2 linked regions of the Homo sapiens genome follow. Changing the gene in region 2 together with the main gene of any one other region gives a genetic interaction. Each region holds a gene or a part of one and is shown on either strand. Other genes may lie near its edges. The genes, in order: PITRM1 and LONP1.

Region 1 (3,822 bases), on a different chromosome or scaffold from region 2:
CTCCCCATGAGGGACTCTGCTTACAAAGGCACAGCCTGACTCAAACTAAGTCTTTGGATCTAAGTTCCAGTGCTCAGGAAACACAGGAACATGGCACCCAACACCAGGCGGGAACAGCCAGGCCACCTGGAAAGTGAGTGCGCCAGAAAGAAACTGGGCCTGCACACTCCTCTGCCGTCCCCTAGAGGGTGCCCAGGAGAAACCCGGGCCGACCAGGTGTGACCTGTGGGACCCCGTGCAACAAACACTTTGGGGCCAACTAGAAAATCTGAATATGGAATAAGAAATAGGCAGTTTTAAGAAAGTATGTTTTATTCTATTAAAACTGAAAATGGCATTAGCTCATGTAAGAAAAAATCCTCACGTTTTAGGGTCACAAATTCAAACATTTACGGGCAAATGATCATGACGTCTATAATTTACTTCCAAAAACTTCAGCAAGGGAAAGGATATCTATTACATGATAAGTGTTTAGGGGCTCATTATTCTAGTATCTCTACTTTTCTGTATGCTTCAAGTTTTCATAATTATTTTTACATAAAATAATCTTGCAAATATGTTTTTACATTAGCATTCATATGTAAATACAATTAGTGTTTTATATAAGATATATGACTATATTATTATTATAATGACCTTGTATTAGTGACATAAGAACAAGCAATGTATCAGAAAGTGAGGATGTAATTAAGGTTCAGTAACTGCATCCACTATTGGAAGAGCACTTCTCCGTGCCAAGGAGAGGGCTTCAAGCTTCACACCCCGTGTCAAGGTGGGCACCATCCATGCACCCCCACTTTCCACGCAACCAAGCTAGATGTGAGGCAACAGGCTGCGGGGCCAGGACCCTCCTCTGGGGGACTCTAAACGCTGTGTTTGTAACCACCATGCTGAGCCTCCTGAGGGCTATCATTGTAAATGTCCAAAATCAATGTCCAAGTAAGATAGGCAAACTTAGGCCAAGAATCTTACCTAGACTTAGATATTTCTTAAGCATTGCTAAATGTGAGAGAAGCCATGCCATAAACTGTTAAGAACACAAACAAGTCAACTTTTCACAATCCACCATCAAACTTTTCCAACAAAATATTACCTAGCATTGCTTGGGTGATAGTGAGTGGCATGAAACTGCTTAAGCTGCTCCCATGTAAGCTCCGGGATGCACAGTGGGTCACCCCCGGAGACCACTGAGTACGTGTGGTCAGGAAGAAGTCTGTTCTGAAGGTGCTGGGAGAATATCCTCTCATTGTCTGTCTTGAAACGTAAAATAAATAAATCATAAGTATACATGTAAAATAATACACACGTTACATTACTTACAATATAGCCAATTGATCACATTCTGGTGCATACACCTGTAATACTTTGCAAATAAAGCTGTTCTAATGGTTTAAAAAAAAAAAAAAAACACCCACGCAGGCATTGTTTAACACGGTATTCAATCATTCATCACCCACGCACAGGACCCAAGGATTGAGAAGAACAATGGATTTTTTGATGTGTGGTGCAACAAACGCATAGCTGAGGGCTGTAAATCGGGATGGATCAGTCGGTCTGCCCACCAGCCGTGAGGGAAGTGGGGAGAAGCTGTCACCCCAACTTGAGTTCAAGAAGACTCCTTGGAAGAAAAGACCACCAAATTGAGAATGAAAAGGTAAGAAATAGTTCACCAGCCGAGAGGAGCTACGGGAATCAGAGAGCAGGCCACCCATGAGCCTCAGGGACACCAGGACAGACAGGTTGTCCAAGTCACAAAGGGACATGAAGACATGGGCCCAGGACAGCAGCTCTTAATCCAAAATGGTCTCAAGAATCCTTTACACTCTGAAAAATTAACCCATTTATGCCTGAGGTTGCAATTTTTTTGTAAAAAATCAGACCTTGGCGATGACCTTGAGCTGTAGGACATAAATAACTCCCACAAGCTTAGGGTGCCAATAATGGAACACTAGGCATAAATGCGTTTTAATGAGGACCCAAACAGCTTTTGATTATGTGGGCGTTTTTGCCTGTGTAGGTGCCTGTGTGTGTTTATATAATTTTTCTATATTCTAAATTAAAGCTGAGACATTTAAAAAATACTTATTCATTAAGGTAAGCCATCATTACATGTTGATATAAATATTTTTGAAAAATACTTCTCATAACAAAGTAAAAAACTGATTAGAGTGGTGCTGTGTTGCCTTTTTTGCAAATCTCTGTAGCGTCTGGCTCAGAGGTGAAGCTGGACTCCCCCATTTGCTCTGTATGCAGCTCGCTGTGTGTCACACACCTTGCCATGCAGCCTCTAGAAAGTACACCGTGTACTTGGGCAAGAATGAATGAAAAGACACTGTCTTGGTAGTGGTATGAAAATAGCTTTTATCTCACAGACTTGCTGCAGATCACATACCAGGGGTCCCCAGACATGGTCTGAGACCTGCTGGGAAGAACAGCAGCCTGGCCCTGCTACCCCGACTTCTGCTCACAGCACTGACCCCAGCTAATTCAAGAATGTATCACCTATAATGAGAATATTAAATAAAATCTTCCAGATGTGTCTATATCATGATATTGTACATGGGAAAGGTAAGCTGAACACAACATAAAAAAGGAAGAAAACTTACAAACGCTCCCTTCATCTCATTAAAGACGACTCCTTTAAAGACCAAGGGCGTCTGGGGGTCGCTCGGATTCTCATGTTCCAGCCGCCATCCTTCCTGCCTGAGGACAAATCATTATAAGCTGATAGTGACTCAAATACTAAAGTCTGTATCAACTAGTTAATCATTCATGACATACCAGAAATCCAGCTCGCGTAAACATGGGAAAAAGGTGGCATCCAAATACACCGAGAGGAGATTCTGAAAGTCCTTGGGATTTTGTGTGGAAAATGGATACAGAGTATAATCACTAGCTGGGTACAAATGAAAAGTGAAATTGTAAAATATAACAGATTTCTACTAAAATTATTGACTCTCAAGACTCATTCCCCCTTTGTCCTAGGACAGTAAGCTGTAGCTATTCTTGGGATGGGGCAGTGGCCCCATGCTCTGGTCCCTGGCCTCAGCAGCTGTCCCAGCTCATAACCCCAAGTGCCGGCTTTCCCATCCCGTCTCAGGATCTGCACTCGACGGGCACCAGGGCTTTCTTCAGCGAATATCTAAACTCTCTCAAGTTTCTCCAGAGACTTTCATACATCTACAAAGATGACCTCATTCTGTAACAGCATGGATTTAACCCGCTCTTCAATGTCACTCCCCCACAGAATGCACTGTTCATCGTCACCCTATCCACTATCGTCAGTCTTACTAAAAGTCAAACATCAACATTAGTAGTAACTCTGGCATTGTAGCGATATCTCCAAGAGAAAATTGTTTTGAACTTTTCTGGGAAAAGTTCACATATGTTTTCTTAAAACGCTAGTTTTTACAATCTCGCTACCATGTGGCTTTCCTGAAGGATTAAATTTCTAATGTCCTTCAACTAGAGAGAGGTAAAAATTTTTCTAGAACATGAATTGCCCACTCCCCTCATTCCTTCTCAGAAACTAACTGAATTCCAGTGGGTGTGCCTGGCAAACCCAAAAGCAGTTTCTGTTCAGGATGCTGGTCTTACCTGTGAAGGCGTTCATGAACGTGGAGAGGGACCGGTTCAACATTTTGAAGAAAGGGTCTCTGCACGGATATTTCTGAGACCCACAAAGGACGGTATGCTCAAGAATGTGAGGAACACCAGTACTGTCCATGGGAGTAGTACGGAACTGCACGCTAGGGAAGGAGAATGACCAGAACGCAAAAGGTTCAGCTTAGTGCTGCGGACACAGTTCCCAGATGCATCATC
Region 2 (2,728 bases):
CCTCCCCCAGCTGGCCTGTCACCTCCAGGCTGCCATCCTTGTCACCCTTGGCATCCTTGTCCTGTGGCCGTCTCAGGGATGTCTCCACAAACAGCGTGGAGCCTCCTGAAACAGGTGTGGAGCTGTGAACACGGGAGGCCTCGGAGCCCAGGCCGGTGCTCACTCCACCCCTCGGGGCCACTCTGACCGCTCCTGCCCCAGTTTAGCATCTTGGTGCCCCTGGGCAGGGGTTGGTGTCCCATCGTGAGCCAACGCTGGCCTCTACGTTTGCTGCGTTGCGGGTTCCTGGCTCTGTACGCCCCACAGGGCAGCCCCCAGCAGCTGCCAGCCACAGAGGACACGCCCAGGGCTACAAGGCCCAGCTGCCGCTGCCCTGCAGACAGACACAAGCCCTTCTCCAGCCCCTCCCGCACCATCCCCTTTGCCCTCTCGCCTCCTTTGTGCGTGGTGGCCCCAAGGCCCATCTGGATGAGCTTGTCCTTACCTGTAAGCCTATCAAAGTGGCACCCAAATCCATAAGGCCCATGGTGTGCTGCCACCCCCATGTGTCACAGCCTTCCCCTCCCTCAGCCCAGACCCCCTGGGCTCCCAGCACACCACCCCCCGCCAGAGGCCGTTCAGAGCCACCTGAGGCCCACTGCACAGGTGTACAAGGTGGGACCTGCTTGTTCTCGGGTAGAAATGGGAATGGCTTTGGGGTCTTCTCCCGCCACCACGCTCACCCATTGCGGTCCAGGCCAGCCCCATGACCACGCCGGGCGGTGTCACGTCATACATGCGCTCCACGGTGAACACGGGCTTCCCCACGAAGTCCTGCAGGTTCTCGGGCGTCACCTCCACGGACTCGGCCTCGCCGCTGACAATCTTGTAGGCCGATTTCCGTAACACCTGGGCGGTCAGGGCAACACAATGGGCACGGGAAGGTGGGGTGACAGGTGCGGGGTGGTGGGGTGACGGGCACAGAAAGGTGTGACGGGCGCGGGGTGGTGGGGTGATGGGCGCAGGAAAGTGGGATGATGGGCATGGAAAGGTGGGGTGATCAGCGTGGGATGGTGAGGTGGGCGGCAGGTGCCAGGAGGGCGGGCTGGCCGCTCACCTTCTCCACTTGCTTCTGCAGGTTGCGGACACCGCTCTCGCGGCAGTACTGCTTGATGAGCAGCGTCAGCACGTCCGATGACAGCTTGGCCTTGCTCTCATCCAAGCCACACAGGGCGCGAGCCTGGGGCACCAGGTAGCGCTGCAAGGGCAACCGTCAGGGTTGGGTCTGGAGGGACCTTGCCCACCAGCTCAGTCTAGAACCTGGGAGCCAATGCCTCTCCCATGGCCCCCAGACCCTGGCCTGGGAACGAGGTCCCTGATGGTGAAACCAGGGCCTGGACACCCCGCCCTGCCACCCACCATGCCCAGAGGCCCCAGGCCTTTGCTTGTGCTGCGTCCTCTGCTTGGATCCACTTCCTATCCCCCAATGGTATCTTAGATGCCGCTTCCTCCAGGAAGGCCTCCTGGTTGCCCCATGGGCTGGCCCCATACACAGACCCAGGGCCTGTAGGGTGGCTGACTGGTTACGTGGCTGCTGCCCTCAGCACATGAGGAAGGGGACTGGGTCAGGGGCTCCAGGGTCACCCACAGCCCCACACAATTCTTGCCACAGTTCTGAGCTCTAATGGCATGGGGGAGGGCATCTGTGAGACGGACAGAGCCATGCAAGCCACTCTACATCTGCCACTGATACTGGGGGGCACTCCTGATGCCCTGAGGGGTCCCCATGCCCCCCAGTCCTGTCCCCAGGAACTACAGGCCCGTCCCTTGGAGAAGTCAGGCTGGGAACTGGGCCCAGCAGTGGGCATTGAAGCCCCCAGGGGACACGAGGATGCTGGGAGGGCCTCAAGGGCAGGGACCAGTGCCCACCACTGGCTGTCAAAGGGCTCCTAGGGGAGAAATGCACTCAGCACCTTTGCAGAAAAAAAAACACATGAGAAATATGGGCCCCTGCATGCTCCTCACTGAAACCACTTCTCCTCCAAGCCTCATTCTGGGTGGGAGCCACAGGCCCCACTGCTTCCGGCTGCCAGAAACCTTCCCTACACTCTGGGCCAGGTGGGGGCCCCACCATGGGGCAGCCTGGAGGCCCCGGGAGACAGAGTGTGTGGCCTGACGGTGGTGGGCGGTGTTTTGGACAGTCCCAGGCCCTAAACCCTGCGCCCACTCGCGCCACCTGCAGCTGCTCGCAAGCGTCTGGTGTGTCTCTCACGGCCCCATCTGCTCCTCGGCCGCAGGTCCCACCTGTCTCTCCCGGGCCCAGGAGCTCCCAGAGGCACGGCCTCTGCAGGCTCTGGGGGGCGCCCCCTGCTCTGGGAAGGGGACAGCAGTGGGGAGGGGCTGGGCTTACCTCCGCAATGGCCAGCTTCTCCTGGGCCACGTAGCCCGACACGTTGATCATCTCCATACGGTCTCGCAGCGGCTCGGGGATGGTGTCCGTGACGTTGGCCGTGCAGATGAACAGCACCTGGGGGCGGCGGCAAGGTGCTGGGGGACTGGCCGCTTACCCTCCCCAGCAAGCCCAGGCCCCAGACAGGCCCCCCACCTTGGACAAGTCCACGGGCACGTCCAGGTAGTGGTCCAGGAAGTTGGCATTCTGCTCTGGGTCCAGCAGCTCCAGCAGTGCCGACGACGGGTCCCCCTGGTAGCCTCGGCCGATCTTGTCCACCTGGGGCAGCAGACAGCAGGT

What was found.
Region 1: changes in LONP1 (region 2) and PITRM1 together harm fitness more than expected from each alone (negative genetic interaction), as found in Homo sapiens cells (one large-scale study listed by BioGRID).

Annotation. Positions count from the first base shown.
Region 1 is NC_000010.11:3,162,632-3,166,453, forward strand, and holds part of PITRM1 (presequence protease, mitochondrial isoform 2 precursor), read right to left. Parts: intron 3,750-3,822; coding exon 3,598-3,749; intron 2,897-3,597; coding exon 2,782-2,896; intron 2,704-2,781; coding exon 2,607-2,703; intron 1,255-2,606; coding exon 1,094-1,254; intron 1-1,093. UniProt on the Homo sapiens protein: Metalloendopeptidase of the mitochondrial matrix that functions in peptide cleavage and degradation rather than in protein processing. Has an ATP-independent activity. Specifically cleaves peptides in the range of 5 to 65 residues.
Region 2 is NC_000019.10:5,693,665-5,696,392, forward strand, and holds part of LONP1 (lon protease homolog, mitochondrial isoform 1 precursor), read right to left. Parts: intron 2,708-2,728; coding exon 2,585-2,707; intron 2,507-2,584; coding exon 2,390-2,506; intron 1,238-2,389; coding exon 1,097-1,237; intron 889-1,096; coding exon 723-888; intron 106-722; coding exon 1-105. UniProt on the Homo sapiens protein: ATP-dependent serine protease that mediates the selective degradation of misfolded, unassembled or oxidatively damaged polypeptides as well as certain short-lived regulatory proteins in the mitochondrial matrix.